4 linked regions of the Homo sapiens genome follow. The protein of the gene in region 3 interacts with the protein of the main gene of each other region in a pairwise test. Each region holds a gene or a part of one and is shown on either strand. Other genes may lie near its edges. The genes, in order: RAPGEF2, KCNE3, KIF5A and DSCAM.

Region 1 (4,496 bases), on a different chromosome or scaffold from region 3:
AATTTTTAAATAATTTTAGAGTAAAAAAGGTTATTTAAAAAACGGGTCAAAGATCCCCTGTTTACCCAGCTTCCCGTAATTTAGCATCTACAATAATTGTGGTAAAGTTATCTAAATATTCAAATTTCATCAGTCATCCTAATAATGTTTTTTTGTTGTTGTTCTTGTCCAGGATCAATTCCAGAATCCTACATTACATTTGGTTATCACATGTCCTTAGTTTCTTCCAATGTGTGGCAGTTCTTGGGCATTTCTTCATCTTCCACACCCTCAATACTTTCAGGGAATACTGGCCAGTTATTTTGTAAAATGTCCTTAAATTTGAGTCTATCTGATATTTGCTCCACTTAGGTTGATTTTTAGTTAAGAATACCAGAGATATCTCTTTCTCAATACATTATATCAGCAGACACATGATGTTGACATGTCTTATTACTAATGATATTAACTTTGATGATCTGGTTAATTTGATATTACCAGTTTTCTTCACTATTAAGTATTGATTTTTTCCTTTATAGTTAATTAATTTTGTGGGGGAGATATTTTGAGACTATGCAAATATCCTGATGATACTGATCTATGATGATATTTTTCATCATACCTTCACCCACTAATTTTGGCATCCATTGATGATTCCTGCCTGTAACAATTGCTACTATGGTGTTTACCTGCTGGTGATTTTCTATTTCCATCATTCCTTCATTTTCTAATTAGAATTCTATAACAAAGAGGTGTCTCTTCTCCTGCTTTTATTTATTTATTCAACTACTTACTTATATCAGTATGGGCTCATGGATACTTTCTTCCCTAGGGGTTATAGTCCGTTACTGTCATGATTTGCTTCTCAAACTGTCCCAAATTTGGCCATTGGGACTCCCTTTTGTATATACAGTCATTAGACTTCCTTCTGATTTTATTTTTTAAATTTCAGTTGGAGAATATGAAGGCTAAGGCTAACCTTACTACTTCCATTATGACAAAAAAAAAATATGAAAAGGAAATACATATATCAAAATCTCCCAAATGTGGTATGCTATCACAACTCTTGCTCATCCAAGACCTTATGCTCTTTGCTCTATATTTATACGCATTATCACAGAACTTTCTCTTCATTGTCACTATTAAACCCATCTCACCTTTTACCACCAACCCCCCAATCCTCAGACATTATTGGTATTTTAGAAGCACAAGGCCAAACTATTCACTAACAACAGAAATTCATTTTAACCAAAAGGTAATAAGCCTTAATGATGCTGCGCAGGGGGAGGGGAGTCAATCTCCAAAGGCCATATACTGTACGATTCCAATTAATAACATTTTTGAAATGACAAAGTTATAGAAATGGAACAGATTAGTGATCCCCAGAGGTGGGGTGGGGGAGTGACTGTGGCTATAAAAGTCCAACAAGAACCATTTGTGGTGCTGGAATTGCTTTGTTTCTTGATTGCACTGATGTCAATATCCTGATTGTGATATTACACTACAGTTTTATAAGCTATTACTAATGGGAGAAACCGGTTAAAGGGTACACACAGGATCTCTCCCCATTATTTCCTACAATTGTATGTGAATCTACATTTATCTTAAGCTAAAAAGTTTAAGAAAGATAATGATTCCACTGAAGACTGGTCATTAAAAAATAAAATACATTTTAAAAGATAATGAGTCTTAACTCTAGAATGAATTTTCAGGAGAAATCAGATAATCACCATAGTACCATAAACCTCTCAGATCCACTGATTGTTGGCTTCTAAGAAAGTTACTATCAGACCTCCCCAGAATGACCTAATGATTAATTCTCGTTCAGTGTTCTCTACCTTTCTTCTCCGTTTTTATGTTGGGTGAAAACAAATACCATGAGCTAGAGAAGAACAGAAAGGTGCCAAGGGGCAGATATTACACTGTGTCGGTTTGTCAACTAAACTGCAAATGGCAGCGAAATGTACATTTTTATTCACTTATTTTAATTCTAAAGCTCCACAGTCCATTATTTTCAACCTGTGGAAGGCAAGCAATGAGAAACAACAGCCAGCGGAAGACAAGTTTAGTTCCAATGACAAAACAAAGTTCCTCTTCAAGTCACTGACACTAACTCTCCCAAAACACTTCTTATACATAATGGATATGAAAGCACAGAAGAGGTGGAGCCAGGACAACTTAAAATCCAAGGACCAAGTTGTTTCCTCCACAAAAACCAATAAACCCACCACCACCGCACCAAGGGTAAATTCTTTCACAGACTGGAGGGAAAAAGGAAACAGCTGAATACAGCAAGAAACACACGCTTCTTAAAATTCAGTAGGTAGTGGCGATTTTGCATGTGAAAACAAGGGTGGTTTTTTTTTTTCCTGAAAAGATAAAAATTCTAGAAGTCAAAATAATGCGGCAATAAACTTATTTTTCTTCCTACAATGACTGACATAATCACTTGAACATAGTTTTAACTATATAAATACATAAATATATATTCTAGCTCTGATAAAGTTACAAGATCAATTATATGTACTACAGATTGCTTCTCCTAATTTACCAACATCAATTAATTTATCTAAACAAAAAATGGTATAAAGGAGTAAAAAACTGTTCTCAAAGACTCAATGCCATCATTACATTGTGTCGTCACAAGTCAATTTTGAGTTTTTATATAAATAAGTTCATTTTTGCCTGCTTAAATTCAGAAGTTCTCCAACTCTTCCAAATGATGAAATGCTTGGAAATCACATTATCATTACAGATTAAGAAATATATTTAGTACAACTACATGATGGTGTTTTGGGTTTTGTTTTTTTGAGATGGGGTTTCGCTCTTGTTACCCAGGCTGGAGTGCAATGGCACAATCTCGGCTCACTGCAACCTCTGCCTCCAGGGTTCAAGTGATTCTCCTGTCTCAGTCTCCCCGAGTAGCTGGGAATACAGGCACCTGGCTAATTTTTTGTATTTTTAGTAGAGATAGGGTTTCACTATGTTGGCCAGGCTGGTGTTGAACTCCTGACCTCAAGTGATCCACCCGCCTCAGCCTCCTAAAGTGCTAGGATTAGAGGCATGAGCCACAGCACCTGGCCTAGTTTAACTATATGATTAACCAGATATTTCAAACTAGATTCCCAGAATGTACATGTAGTAGAAGACATTAATGTTTAAGGGAAAAAAATAGTGTGAGAAACCTTAAAAATCAAGAAAACTATATTCAACAACTTGGATTTTTTCCTATGAACTATGAAATATCCATGATCATCCTGTGCCATAATTAGGCTGCACTGGTATGATTCAAACACAGTTTTACTATAATGAGATATAAAACGTGCACACATTCAGCCAGCCTGTCCAGCAGATTCTACTCCTGCAATATTTCTAATCCATCACCACTGTGTAATTCAGCTTCCCAGCCATCTCAAGCCAGGAAAATGAACATCAGTCTTTAACAGAACTCTTGGTCTCCTCACTACCCTCACAAACCATGAGCTTCTAAATGCCAGTAATCATTCCTTACCCCCTCCTCAGTCCCCTGGTTCCCAGCACACTGAACAAAGAGCTGCACATGTTGTCTTACCAGGTGTGCTACTCATATGACAGTAGGTCAATCTGGAATACCACTTCAGGTCCACTAGTTCACTGGTAGGTGAATTCTTACTCCCCTACAACTCAATACATATTCATCTAGGAAGTCCACATCCTCTTCAGTGCTGTCATAGGATAGCTGTTACAGCACTCATGAATTACAATCTACTTATAACAATAGATTAGTGAGTTACTTGAGGGACACACATTTCATCTTTGAATTCCCAAGGCCTGTTAAATAATAGAAATTGTATAAAATATGCTATAAAGAGGACTAACATTAGGCATTACACTAAATAATGTACTTTCACTTAATCCACAAAACCTCAGACAGCTATTATCCATTTTACCGACGAGGAAATTGTTACCAAAAATGGAGTGAAGAGAAGGAATACCCCATAAAATACGGATTATCAAGGACCAACGATTTTCAGTGGTTTCCATATCTCCTAAGTCTAAATCAAATTTACCTTTCTTTTAAATAGAAACGGGGCCTTGCTATGATGCCCAGGCTGGTCTTGAACACCTGGGCTTCAAGAGATCCTCCCACCTCAGCCTCCCAAAGTGCTGGGATTACAGGTATGTGTCACCACTCCTGGCCAAAGTTACTTCCATATAAAATTTACAAAGAAGGAATACTTTTTTTCTCATTAAGTTTTCATATGAATCAAGCAAAATCAGAGTTTTTATTTCTAGAAGGTTATCATATCATTATTTCGGATAGTCCATTTATATCTGAGGCGCATCCCATTATAATTTTATGCAACTTGAATTTCAAATTATCACCAATGGACCAGGTGCAGTGGTTCACACCTGTAATCCCAGCACTTTGGGAGGCTGAAGCAGGAGGATCACTTCTGCCCAGGACTTCATGACCAGTCTAGGCAACAAAGCGAGACCCTCATCTCTACAAAAAATTTTTTAAATTAGCCAGGCAC
Region 2 (5,157 bases), on a different chromosome or scaffold from region 3:
CAAATGGTTACTTTCTATAACTGTCATAGACAGTCCTACAGAGTAAATGCAAGGCCGTGGGCAGGATCTGAGAAAGAACCCTGACCAAGCCAGGACTGCTTCCTCATGGCTAGTCTCAAGAACCATTTGCATCAGAGTCATTTGGAAATCTTGTTTGAAAATGCTGATTTCTAGGCTCTACTCCAGATTTCCTGAATTAGAACCTCTGGAGTGGAGCCCAAAAGTCTACTTAGTAAAACAAGCTCCCCAGGGGATTCTTAGGCAGATTGAAAACTGAGGTTGCAGGATGGGCACAGTGGTTCATGCCTGTAATCCCAGAACTTTGGGAGGTGGAGGTGTGCAGGTCACTTGAGCCCAGGAGTTCGAGATCAGCCTGGGCAACATGGAGTAACCCAATTTCTATAAAATACAAAAATTAGCCAGACATAGTGGTGTGTCCCAGTTACTCAGGAGGTTAAGGGAGGAGGATCACCTGAGCCCAGGAGTTCAAGGCTGCTGTGAGCCATAATCACTCCACTGCACTCCAGCCTGGGTGACACAGTGAGATCCTGTCTAAAGGAAGGAAGGAAGGAAGGAAGGAAGGAAGGAAGGAAGAAAGAAAGGAAGGAAGGAAGGAAACTGAGATTGCATGCTTAGGTGATTAGGATGACTTTTCTGAGAGGTGATCTCCAGACTGAGAAAAAGGAATAGTAGGGTCAAAACAAGGTGGGTACAATATACCCACCTTGTATATTGTATACAATATACAATATACCCACCTTGTAGTAGGTCTTTTTAAAACGATAGCACTTCTTAGATATATTCTGGGATTCTGTAATTGAGAGTATGTGCTTCAGATATCCTGGAGCAGACCTTTGCAAGGGAGTGAAAGAGCTGGCCTGAGGCTGTTATTAATTATTCTGAGGCAGTGAGCTGGTAAAAGGGCACCCCACAGGGTCCCCCGGAGAAATTCTCTGCAACTGTCCCTTCCTCTGCCACTAGCCTCCTGGCTCTTATTCCTCAGCTGCCCCGGCTGCCCCAGTTCTCTGAAGCCTGCAATGTCACCAGCAAGGAAACAACAGTTTGAGTGAGGGCATGGTGGTGGGAAAATAAACTGTTCTGGGACAGAGATGAGTAAGGTGCGGCTGAACACAAGTTGGTCAGGCACTGTCACGAACTTTTGAGGCTTGGTGGAGGAAACATTTGCTGGTGCTACTCAGAGACAGAGGGGTGTGTAGTGGATTTTGGGTCTGGGCTCTGCTACCTGGGCAAATCCCTTCTCCAACTGGGCCTCTGCGTCCTGTGTGGAAAAGAGTTTGTGTAAGAATCATATTATTTTGCTGTTGACCCTTTGGTTTTAATACTTTGGACTCAAAGGTCTCATCTGACCTCAACCATAAGCCTGTGAAGAATGCATGGAGGAACTGTACCAACTTTACAGCCAGGCCAAGGCCCAGTGAGGGGCAGCGACTCGCCCACCACCACACAGCCACACTGGAGCAAAACCGACTCCTGGAGATCGGCCTCATGCTGGGCTTGCTGAGGCCCAGCGGAGCGAGAGGCTTTCGGTCTCTGGTCCAGGAAGCAGGCGCTGCAGGGGACGGAAGGGTCGGAGCCCACAGCCGGGGGAGGCCAAGGAGCTGGGCGGAGGCACTCCAGGCCAGCCCGGGGAGAAGTGGGTGTGCTGGGGCCCGGGCGGGGCAGGGGGAGGGGACGCCCGGGGGAGGGAAAAGGGAGCCGAGCGCGGGTGGGAGCCCAGAGCCAGAGAGCGCGCTGGGCGGTGCTGGGCACCCGCGGAGTGGAACGGGGCTGGTGGAATGCACAGGGTCGCAGCGCTTGGGCCACCCTCGGTCAGAGGGCGCCGTGTCCAGCGAGCAAACGGGCGCCCCGGAGCCTTGCTGAGAGGCAGGTAAGGCACCCACCCAGCTGGGAAGGCTGAGCTGCGGCCTGGGGTGGAAATGAGGGGTCTTCCCGCCTCCCTTCCAAGGGCCACGGCGCGCTCTCCGTGAGACTGTGGAACCGAGGGGGAGTGGGGGAGGGGTGGGCGCTGCAAATACCAAGCTAGTCCTCCCGGATCCTCCCCGATCCTCCCGAGCGCAGTGATCGTGGAGCAGCATGTGGGAGTAGGGAGCTGGGCTCTGCGCGCCCCGTCTGGAAACCGTGGGGACTTGCGCCGTTATTCCCAGCCCTCAAGACGGCCACAAGAAAAGTTCCTCCACACCCACAGACGTGCAAGCGAACACTTGCAGCTGGCAGCCAGTGCACACGCAGAAACGACATTTCAGGACCCAGCACAGTCTCATTTGGCTGGAGCCACCGGCTCTGCGGAGCTGACTTGCCCATTCCCTCTACACCTCACTGTGTCCTTCACCCTGTCTGACCTAGTCCCGGGAAACCTGGTGACTCCCAAAAGCATCTTCTGCTGCCAGTAACATAGGTCGAGGCTGGGAGTCGGGAGACTTGAGTTCTAGTTTACAGGCTGTGTAAACCCGGGCAGTCATCCCTCAGCTCTGCGCCTTGTGCTCGCTTTTCCTGGGCCACCATTTGTAAAACGGGCCTCCTGCTCCTGTTGCCTGCATACCCCATGGGACAGAAGGGGAAAGGGGGATTGGACCTCAGAGTCTCTTATCTCGAAAATAAATGAGTTTAGTTCTTGCGTGAAAGCCCACCAGAGTATCCCTCCTAAAATCCTCTCCACTAATTTGCATATAGGGAAACTGATGCCCCAGGGGAGATGATTTACCTAAGGTTACAACAGAGACCAAACAGAATTAGAACCCAAGTTTCCTCAGTCCTAGCCCAGGGCTCTCTCCACTTCACCTACAAAGGCATGTTGTAAACGTGTGAGCTCCTCCTTATTTCCTTGCATCCGTCCACTTTGTCTGTTCCTGATGGAGGAAGACCCATGCTGGGGGCCTAGAAGCTGCTTTCAGATTTTCTTGACTCCTTGAGATGATAACCATCACCTTCTCCATCCCTCACTCAGTCTATACGTCTCAAAGCACATCCATAAACTTAATGTGCGAGTGCTCAAAATACCTTCTAAGAGGGAAGCAAGACAAGAAACTCCATCTTACTGATGAGGAAAATGAGGCCTAGAGGGATATAGACTTAGAGTGATAAAGTTACTTAACCAAAACGCACGGCTAGACGTGTTGGCCTAGTAGGGGCAGGAACCCAGGTCTCCTGATTCCCCCTCTGATGTGTTCTCCACCAGCTACAGGACTACAGAATGGTACCCCTCAATGATAAGGGACTGCGGGAATGATCATAGAGGGTAGGAAACAGGAAGGCTTCTGGAGAAGGTGAGGTTCCTGGGAATCAAGAAGAATAATAAGAACCTCCTGGCTGCTTCTGAGGCTAGGAGACCTGGAGTGGGAAAGGAGACACAGAGATGGTTGTTCTTGGTAATATGGGGGGAAAGGAAAGATGTGGAGACAGAAAAGGAAAACAGTGTGACCAGCCTGCCTGATAATTATCTTGTATGTTTGCAATTTCTAAAACATTCCCATCTCTTGTCTCCTCTAGTTCTCATGTGTGGTAGGCAGGGCAGGGATCATTATCCCCATCTTATAGATGAGGTTCAGAGGAAGTAAATGCAGTGCTCAAGGACACAGAGCCAAGCATACAGCCAAGATTAGAATCATGAAAGGAACACTTGAACGGCAAGATCACAGGCTGAGGGACTGGGGAGTTGGACTGTGTGTGTGTGTGCAGTGGGTGGGTGTATGTGGCCACACCCTGGGTAGGTACACAGGGAAGAGGGTTGCAAAGCCATTGCTGGTGTTTTGAGGCCAAGAATGTTTGCCCTTTGGATTGAATGGGGTCCAGGTGCAGGGAGCATCTGGGCTTCCAAAGAAGGCTTAGAATTCTTCCTCCTCTGACTCACCCCACCTGACTGAGATGGCTTCTTTTCTTTGAGCCATCCCTTCCCCAGACCAAATGAAATCTGTTTTGCCCTGCCCTGGAGGTTGCTTTTTAAATATTGTAAACTGTTTTCATGAATGTATGTGCGTGTGCCAGAGCGGGGGAATGCTCTTAGAGAAGAGGCATTGATTCATTTATTCTTGAATGCCTGCTAGGTATCAGGGCTGGGAAATAAAGAAATGTATGAGGCACAGGACCCTGCCCTCTTACCTTAAAGCGCACAGTTACACACATACACATACACACACACACATACACACACACACACACACACACAGAGTTTCAGTACAGTATAGTGCTCTAATAAGCCTTCGTGCAAAGCACTTTTGGGAAAAAACAAGAGGGAGAGACTAACTGGCTAGGGAGTGAGGAAGGAGGAGTCCCAGGAGAAGGTCTGCAGAGATGAATTGGAGTTGGGTCTTGAAGGATGAGTAGGAGTTTGCCAGGCAGGTAAAAAGAGGAAGGGCATTCTTGTTTAAGAAAACAGCATGAGCAAAGGCAAGAGATGTGCAAGTGCAAGGAATATTTGGAGAGTGGCCTGTACTTCAGTGTCATGGGTGCAGGCCACTGAAAAGAGCTGTGGGGAGATGAGGCCAGTGTCAGAGTCACATTTCAAGGAGCTTCAGTGGTAATCAGAAGAGTTTAGAGTCTGCCCTACTGGCAGAAGGGAACTTATAGTGGAAAGGTCTGTGGAGGGGAAGTCAAGATACTTGGTTTCTGGCTCCAACTCTGCCACTACTGAGCTGTGAGACCTTAAGCAGGTGATTCCCTTGGGGAGGAGGGTCTATTTTCCCACTGGTTGAATGAGGGGGTTGCACCAACAACATGATCATGAAGATCTCTTCCAGCTCAGATTCTATTCCTTTGTCCTTCCAACTGGATGCTAAGGGCTACTCCTTCAACTCCTCTCCCACTCCACCAGCTCTCCAATCCACAGGAGTGGTAAGACCACCAAGGGGACAGTGGTAAAACTGTGCACCCCAGGAACTGTCTTTGGATCACCTACCTGCTTTATGTGACTTTTTCTACCTACCTCTCTGTACTTCATTTCCAGACACTGAAGACGCTCATTCTGAAAGAGTAGCTGAAACGGAGTGACGGGAAAGAAAGACCCAAGGGTAGAGTTTCACTTTTCCCCAGAGCAACCTGAATGAAAACCCCACTAAGATCCCCAGTTCATCCCTCAGATCACAGCTTTATTCCCCAACTTCCAAGTTAGGGGTTGGACAAGTGTAAGGCAAGTGCAGTTTG
Region 3 (4,041 bases):
GTATGTCAGGGGCTCCTGAATTCCAGCTTCTGCTCCTGCTCTGCACTGCACCTGCCATGCACAGATTCTCCTCAATGCCACAGCCACCAAACTGCTACTGTGCCCTTGCTGCCCCACCCTTTGCATGCCCACAAAGCCCTCTCTGGGGAAGCGGGTCCCTCATCCCCATGGCCGCCCTGGGGCTATTGATCTGGCACATGCTGGGAGATGTGGGGGAAACCAGATGGAGACAGGACAAGGCGCTCTCACAAGAGTTCTGGGCTGCAGTGGAGATGGCAGGTTTTACTGCCTAGAAAATTATATAACTTTTAAATGCCTGACCACCCACCCTTCGCTCTGGGAGAAGGAATGAGCTGGACAGAACAGTCCATTACATAAAGGCAATGAGGCCTTTTGAGGAAATGACATGGTCTCCATCTTCTCTGACTCCTGATTTTTCTTTATTCTCTCTCCTCACCCCTGTCCCCTACGCTCCTCTGGGTGACCGTCTTGGGTCACTTGCCTTCCTTTCCACTTCTTCCCTTTGGCTTGCCCCATAGCTGGTACGTGACAATGCAGATCTGCGTTGTGAGCTTCCTAAATTGGAAAAACGACTTAGGGCTACGGCTGAGAGAGTTAAGGCCCTGGAGGGTGCACTGAAGGAGGCCAAGGAGGGCGCCATGAAGGACAAGCGCCGGTACCAGCAGGAGGTGGACCGCATCAAGGAGGCCGTTCGCTACAAGAGCTCGGGCAAACGGGGCCATTCTGCCCAGATTGGTGAGTAGGTGTTAGCAGGCAAGGTGGGAGTATCTCCTGAAGCAAATTTAGCAAATTGCTAATTGCCAAGCAACTAGATTATTGCTTCTTACCTACCCCTAGCCTCATCCCACTTCCCCCCAAAAAGTAAAAAAGTGATTATGTTACAAGCAACTCAGTTCAACCCCAGCTAAATGACCTCAGGGACCAGGGCAAATGCAGGGTCATAGCCTCCTCATGGTTGTTTTCTTTCTTTATTGCAGCCAAACCCGTCCGGCCTGGCCACTACCCAGCATCCTCACCCACCAACCCCTATGGCACCCGGAGCCCTGAGTGCATCAGTTACACCAACAGCCTCTTCCAGAACTACCAGAATCTCTACCTGCAGGCCACACCCAGCTCCACCTCAGATATGTAGTGAGTGACCACACGTGTGGGTTGGAGTCCCACCCAAAGCTCCCTGGACCCTAGAAGGCATAGGGTGGGGGCAGTTATTGGTTGTGGCTTAATTATTTTCCTAAACCCTTTCTCAACTTCATGCCTATGATTAGAAGGTAGGTGTCTGCCCTCCCAGCCTGTGGCCATGTTTGTTTTCCTCTGCTCTCTGGGGATGGGGAGGGCTGAGCAGCTCTATCACTGAGGATGAGTGTGGATTAGTGGTCCTCAGACTAGTGGAGGGTGGGTGTCAGAGGCTGCCTCTTTCCTCTGCTCCATCCAGCTTTGCAAACTCCTGTACCAGCAGTGGAGCCACATCTTCTGGCGGCCCCTTGGCTTCCTACCAGAAGGCCAACATGGACAATGGTGAGTGAAAAAGATGGGTAATCCCACCTTTGGGGTCCTCAGGGCAAGTTGAGAGGCATAAAAGTAAGTGACCTTAGTGTACAAAAAACACTGACTGAACCTTTCTGGTGTGCCAAGGCTTCAAATAAAAAAAAAAATACATATAGCCAGGTGTGGTGGCATGCACCTGTAGTCCTAGCTACTTGGGAGGTTGAGATAGGAGGATTGCTTGAGCTCAGGAGCTTAAGGCTGAAGTGCACTGTGAATACACCTGTGAATAGCCACTGCACTCAGCCTGGGCAGCATAGTAAAGCCCCATCTCTAAAATAATAATAATAACACATATGAAGAAAAAAGTGACCCTGTACCTACAGCCTGAGCACTGCCCAGCCCTTTAGGTCTCAGGCTGCCTGGGAGTGGATTCCTCCTATTACCACGCCAATCCCAGCCCTTGCCTTCCAGTTCCCTTTTCCTCTCCTTGGTGAGGGGCTGCAGAAACTTTTTCTCGAACAAAATAATGATGTAGCTTGGGATAACTAAGGAGAAAGTGTCACAGCTTATCTTTTTCTCTAAGGGATTAAGATGGGAGAGGGTTTGCGCAAACTGTTTCTAACACCCAATCTCCTTTTTTCTTCTTCTAATCCTGTGTTCTCAATGATGATCTCTTCAGGAAATGCCACAGATATCAATGACAATAGGTACAACAGTCCCCACTACCCCTGGGTTCTCTGGGTGGGACCAGAAGAAATGATTAAATTTCCCTTGTGCCCCACTTGGAGGTTCCTGGAGCCTTTGGGGAAGGGGGAGGGAGTGAGACTCATTCTTTTCATCACTGTGTTGTCCAGGAGATCCAGTCATTCCCCTGCCTCAGTGCAGAATATCTCCCCTCCTCCAATCCCATCTGTGGCTTCTCCCTATTCCAGTGATAAGGTCTGGACGAAAACAACGTGGGCATCTGACGACTGGGTTTCTCTCCTACCTTTGGAAGCCTTGTGACATTGGACAAGTCATTTACATCCCTCTGGCCTTGAGTTTCCCTGTATTCCTGTAAAACACAAATAGTCCCTGCCGTTTGTGATCTCACAGGGACACTCTCAGAGCAGAGTAACCATGATGACAGGAATACTTTAATTTCTATGGAGCTGATCATGGTGGGTCTCTTCCTCCAGGAGTGACCTGCCGTGTGGCTATGAGGCTGAGGACCAGGCCAAGCTTTTCCCTCTCCACCAAGAGACAGCAGCCAGCTAATCTCCCACACCCACGGCTGCATACCTGCACTTTCAGGTAGCGTCAGGCTGCTTCCTCGGACCAGCCTCAGGTTGCTTCCCTTCTTGCTGACAGCCTCTTTGGTTTTCCTGCTGCTGCTTCTTTTTTTTTTTATCACCTCAAAACTTTAATTATGTAGTTACCCCTCAACTCCTGCTTTCCCCTGTTGGGGGCTACACCTGTGCTGCCCCATGTAATCTGGACGTTGACCTCCCGTGCCCCCTTTTGCTTTCCGTTAGGCTACAGTGGTAACCACAGTACTGTCTTTTTGCCACTAGGGGTCACTGTCACATGTCCAAAGAAGTGAGCTTGGCCGCTGTAGATTAGAACCACAGGGGTGGTAGACTGCAGATCTATCAGGAGACCCTAGGGGGCCATCTCAACCCCACCTCTTCCTCCACCCTGAAATAATTTTGGATGGATAGGTGTTTTTGGAACTAAGACATCTCCAGTTAAGGCGATGTTTGCTTCACGCCTGCACCTGTGTCCCATCCTCTTCCCATCTGTATATGCCACCAGTAAGCTTTAGGAAACGCCCCACGAAATCAGTCAGCGCTCCCCTCCCATCTTGCTCAGTGGAGGTGGCAAAGCCCCTCTTTTTCCTCCTCTGTCCCCAGGTGCTCTCCTCTAGCAGCACAGGAACCTTCTTTGTTCTTGTGTGTCACTGGGTTTCTCACCAAGGTTGCTTTAGGGCCCAGAAGTGGCACAGAGAACATGGCCAGTCTCTTACTGGGCTGCATCTAAGCTGAGCCCTCTCCAGGGGTTTCCCAGAATAGTAAACCAGGCACACACAGGCAGAAAAGTCTGAGAAGCAGAGAAGTAGGAATGCAGAAGAGGAGTTGGGGAGACCTAGGGGTGGAGGTGCAAGCCTGGGTCACGGGGGGCGGTGGTAGGGGGGTCTGCTTGTTGGTATTAAAGGAACAGGACAGTAAACCAAAGTGTGTGCAGATGCCACCTGTTCCTGTTCTGTGACTGAGCTACAAGCTGGGCCCTCACACCCTCTTTCTCTTTCTTTCCCAGTTTCTAAGAGGGACTGAGGCCTCTTCTCAGCATGCTGCAAACCTGTGGTCTCTGATACTAACTCCCTCCCCAACCCCTGTTGTTGGACTGTACTATGTTTGATGTCTTCTCTTACTTACTCTGTATCTCTTTGTACTCTGTATCTATATATCAAAAGCTGCTGCTATGTCTCTCTTCTGTCTTATTCTCAAGTATCTACTGATGTATTTAGCAATTTCAAAGCATAGTCTACCTTCCTTA
Region 4 (4,496 bases), on a different chromosome or scaffold from region 3:
TAACTTTTCTTCTGATTTTCATACATTTCCTTTAATATGCATGTATTTCTTTTTATAAATGGAAAAACATATATAAAAGAAACATGCATTTGTAACTATTACTATATAAGAGAAAAAACCATATGGATGATAGAAAAATAATGGAATATGAAAATTTGATCTATGTAAACATACTGAAAATTTCTATGGAGACTTCTCTAAGATTAAGATCCTAGTTTGCCTGCGATAGTTCTGGGTCATGCCTGTTCTCTTGGCATAATTATTAGTCCTTTCTGTTTCAGCCTCAAAAGTGTCCCAGGTTGGATGTTAAATTATATGGCCAGCCTACTTAAGATACTTTTAGAGAGATTTAAAACATGCTTAAGTACCCTACTTAAGATATCTTTAGAGGTTTTTAATACACGGCATTTAATACAAACTTTATTTAGCTTCTACCCATTCTCAGAGACTTCATGGAAGTTTGCATGCAATTACTATTTGTAATTAAAGTTATTAAAAGAGGATTTCTTATGAGAAAATGATGAAGATGAGGTCATCAATCTCTCAGTAGTTTCCTTTATTCCTGTAAAGAATTCCCTAGTGAGAAAACCCCAAATAACTTGAGGAAGTATTAGGTTGGTGCAAAAGTAATTGCTGTTTTTGCCATTACTTTTTGCAATCACTTTTGCACCAACCTAACAGATAAAGTGACTGTTTGTGGGAGTGAGCGGGTGTGGATTTTCCGTCTGTTTATAACTTTGTGTGAGGAAACACCAGTTTTAAATTAAGGACTTCTTAGGAGCTGTCATTGTTTAACCTGAACATCTGAGTTGTATTACCATTCCTCTTAAGTCAATCAGGAAATATAGAAACAGTTGATGAAAGCTTGCTAACACTGTGCTTACCTGTTTTGAAAACAGTGAACTCTTGTTCTGATTAACGTTTTGCTTTATCAGGAAAACCAGACCTTTTTGGTAATGTTTAACAACTACGACATTTACCCCCTAGACATGAAAGACATATACTTGGAAGTTGTTTAATTATTTGTATGTGCCACTTTCTTCCATAATTTGTTTTCCTGCAGATGGAACTCCCAAAATTATTTCTGCCTTTAGTGAAAAGGTGGTGAGTCCAGCAGAGCCGGTTTCCCTTATGTGCAACGTGAAGGGAACACCTTTGCCCACGATCACGTGGACCCTGGACGATGACCCGATTCTCAAGGGTGGCAGTCACCGCATCAGCCAGATGATCACGTCGGAGGGGAACGTGGTCAGCTACCTGAACATCTCCAGCTCCCAGGTCCGGGACGGGGGAGTCTACCGCTGCACTGCCAACAACTCGGCGGGAGTCGTCCTGTACCAGGCTCGAATAAACGTAAGAGGTGCTTGTCAAATCAGCTCCTCAAAAAAACACACATAACTCATTATAGTGGAGAAGAAGATTTCTGCATGCACCGAGCTGGGTCTTGGAATGCCAGAGCGGATTAACTGTTGCTTCCCATTTCCTACCCTCTCCTTCCTACTCAGGAATGGCACTGACTGGGTTAATGTTGGAAATGGCATTTTGGTTTCTGTAGTCAGCTTGTTCTTTTTTACTCTAGATCTGTTCACCTGATGTTTCCTTTCCTGGTTTATGCTCTGCATGCCCTTTCCCTTCTCCTTCTCTTCGGTTCTTCCACATTCATGGTAAACCTTCATGTACATGGTATTAAACTTACATTCATGCTGCAACGTGATGTAACCTCCATTGTCGTCCTAGATTTTACAGAGAGAGTTAAACAATTGATCAATTGCTGCCAGTGTGTTCACCAAAAGTGCGTGATTGTCCAGTATAGACTAGTTACTTTCTATTAATTAAATTGCCTTTTATCTTGTAATTTTTAATTCAAAACATTTTCATAGAAGTAGCAGATAAAGTGTTTCACAGTTATACATTTGAATTTAAGAAAAGGAAAGAAAAACCTTTGTTGTAGAAAATGCCACATGCAAAAATATTTGTTTAACTGAAAAAGATGTGCTTACATGAATATAATCTACATTTTTAACTCAAGGAAAAGTGTACCCATTTCCCTACATGAGATGTACCCTTAAATTATTTTCAAGAGTTTCTTTGTGTCTCTCCAGGGCCTGCAAGCATTCGACCAATGAAAAACATCACAGCAATAGCAGGACGGGACACATACATTCACTGTCGTGTGATTGGCTATCCGTATTACTCCATTAAATGGTACAAGAACTCTAACCTGCTTCCTTTCAACCACCGCCAAGTGGCATTTGAGAACAATGGAACTCTTAAACTTTCAGATGTGCAAAAGGAAGTGGACGAGGGGGAGTACACGTGCAACGTGTTGGTTCAACCACAACTCTCCACCAGCCAGAGCGTCCACGTGACCGTGAAAGGTAAGCCCTGTTCTCCTGGTTCCCACACAACTCATTCCATAGCCCGACTACTTCCCAGACCAATGATTTGAAGTCGGGTAATCCAAGATCTGCTTATTTAGAGCAGGATAATTGTACAGGCTGAAGAATGACAGGGAACATGAGATGTCCTCTTTACTACTGACTGAATCTTCACAGGAACTTTAGTTGATCTGATTTTCTCTCCAGGTGGAATTTTGGCTTGGTTTTCCAGAGGGCATGTGTTGTTAACAATACAACAGAAAAAAAAGGAGCACATCATTAGCTTCATTATCTAGTCATCTCTCAGATAATTTTTAAATAAATAACCTTCTTTTCCTAAAACCTCCTAAAAGCAAGGTCTCTTAGAACTTCACTGGAAGGGATTTTCTGTATTGGATGAGGATTTCAAACAAACGTCTTATCTTCTGTAGATGAGCAGGTCAAAGCAACAACATAGAAATTATATGTTTAAAGGATGCCACAGAACGTTTTCCTCATTAAATTATTCTTTGCATCATGACATGGACTGTCATGGAATCTACCTGTCAGGATGATCTTTAGAGATCCTGCAATTTGAATTGACTACAATCTCCTTACCAGAAAAAAACAATAAGGTGATCAGACTCATCCAAGGATACGCAGACTTTTAGTGGCAGAGCCTCAGAAAGACTCATTTCTTCTATTCTACAAGTCAGTTTCCTGAGCTGAATATGAAATAAAATTGTTTTAATTATGTAAGGAATCTACCTGAGGTGGGTCCTAGGAATAGAACTAATATGTTATAAAACTATTTCCGAAACCTGTGGGTGTTGCTTCTAGCCACATTGAGCTGCCTGTCTGAGGTGTCCAAGTTCTCTCTCCAGGAACCAATAAGTGGCTTTTAGTTGCCCTTGTTACAAAGTTGCATAGGTTTCCTGTGGTCTTCCCCAAGCTTCTTTTCCCACCAACCCTGTGAGTTTTACTTTTGTGAGAACGCATACAGACACACACACATGGAAATAATAATATGTGTATACTATTATTACGGGGCATATATATTGCATTACATTATATATTATAGAATATGTATTGTGCATTGTATATTAGATATGCCTGCACATAATTATAAATCGGTTTTTAATAACCATATGTCTTGAGAATTTCCTCAAATCACTAGATATTCTTGGTAAACCAGGCTGCATAAAGGTTCATTTGGTGGTTGTGTTTATTTATTTAATCCTCATTTACAGAACATCTGCTTCATGCCAGGCACTACTCTAGACACTGAGGAATACAACAATGAAAAAGGTCTGCAAGGTCCTTTCCTTCATTGACTCTCTTCTCAGTCAGGAGAGACAAACAATAAACAAATAAAACAAGTGAATAAACCAGAAAACACCTAATGGTACTCCATACTATGCAGAGAATTAAAACATGGCAGTATCTTAATGGTTCATTGCAATAGTCAGATGCCATATCAACACATTTTCTGTACTCTGTCATCTTAAAATTCATTGGTCTATCATACCCTTGGAAGGAATGTTTTACCCACACATGATTTTGTAACATAAAAAGTTGATCATTTGGAAATGATTGGTTCACTGTGTTACACAGATCTTCCAAATGTTGATACAATTTGTTATACAATATCAAAATATCACAACTACTAACATTACCATGATCTCATCAGAAAGTCTTCAAGTAAACTGTCAAGTTCATGCTGATGGATGCAAGTTTTCTAAAATTCTATTCTTTCTTGAAAGATTCAATTTTATTATTTATAATAAACACCATCAATTGTAATTGTAGGAGTGATGGGCTCATTTATCTGTAAGAAATTGTTTGACAAATAGAAAAGACCGCATAACCATCGTTTTTAGGTAGCCATTCTTTTAAGAAAGAAATGGAATTCCATGAAGAAAAGCAGCTGGTCGAATTTGCAACTCAAGCAAGCACAGACATACTCTGCTTGAAAATAGCCGTGCTGCTCAGGAGGTGGAGGAAACACTGTGCCTTCTTCCCATTTTATTACACAGGACATAGAACATTAAAAATAACGTGAGCTTTAGGGTAAAGATGTAATAAAACTGTTATGTTTCCTGCTTCGTCAAGTGTCTGTAAGTGAATCTGGCATTTTTA

The links.
Region 1: the proteins of KIF5A (region 3) and RAPGEF2 interact in a two-hybrid assay, tested with the Homo sapiens proteins (one large-scale study listed by BioGRID and IntAct).
Region 2: the proteins of KIF5A (region 3) and KCNE3 interact in a two-hybrid assay, tested with the Homo sapiens proteins (one large-scale study listed by BioGRID and IntAct).
Region 4: the proteins of KIF5A (region 3) and DSCAM interact in a two-hybrid assay, tested with the Homo sapiens proteins (one large-scale study listed by BioGRID and IntAct).

The regions. Positions count from the first base shown.
Region 1 is NC_000004.12:159,108,872-159,113,367, reverse strand, and holds part of RAPGEF2 (rap guanine nucleotide exchange factor 2), read right to left. Parts: intron 1-4,496. UniProt on the Homo sapiens protein: Functions as a guanine nucleotide exchange factor (GEF), which activates Rap and Ras family of small GTPases by exchanging bound GDP for free GTP in a cAMP-dependent manner.
Region 2 is NC_000011.10:74,464,129-74,469,285, reverse strand, and holds the start of KCNE3 (potassium voltage-gated channel subfamily E member 3), read left to right. Parts: upstream 1-1,736; 5' UTR 1,737-1,796; coding exon of another isoform or gene 1,797-1,888; intron 1,889-1,964; exon of another isoform or gene 1,965-5,024; intron 5,025-5,157. UniProt on the Homo sapiens protein: Ancillary protein that functions as a regulatory subunit of the voltage-gated potassium (Kv) channel complex composed of pore-forming and potassium-conducting alpha subunits and of regulatory beta subunits.
Region 3 is NC_000012.12:57,580,417-57,584,457, forward strand, and holds part of KIF5A (kinesin heavy chain isoform 5A), read left to right. Parts: intron 1-539; coding exon 540-756; intron 757-998; coding exon 999-1,152; intron 1,153-1,453; coding exon 1,454-1,536; intron 1,537-2,185; coding exon 2,186-2,213; intron 2,214-2,684; coding exon 2,685-2,763; 3' UTR 2,764-2,799; intron 2,800-3,801; 3' UTR 3,802-4,041. UniProt on the Homo sapiens protein: Microtubule-dependent motor required for slow axonal transport of neurofilament proteins (NFH, NFM and NFL). Can induce formation of neurite-like membrane protrusions in non-neuronal cells in a ZFYVE27-dependent manner.
Region 4 is NC_000021.9:40,335,983-40,340,478, reverse strand, and holds part of DSCAM (cell adhesion molecule DSCAM isoform CHD2-42 precursor), read left to right. Parts: intron 1-1,063; coding exon 1,064-1,360; intron 1,361-2,102; coding exon 2,103-2,378; intron 2,379-4,496. UniProt on the Homo sapiens protein: Cell adhesion molecule that plays a role in neuronal self-avoidance. Promotes repulsion between specific neuronal processes of either the same cell or the same subtype of cells.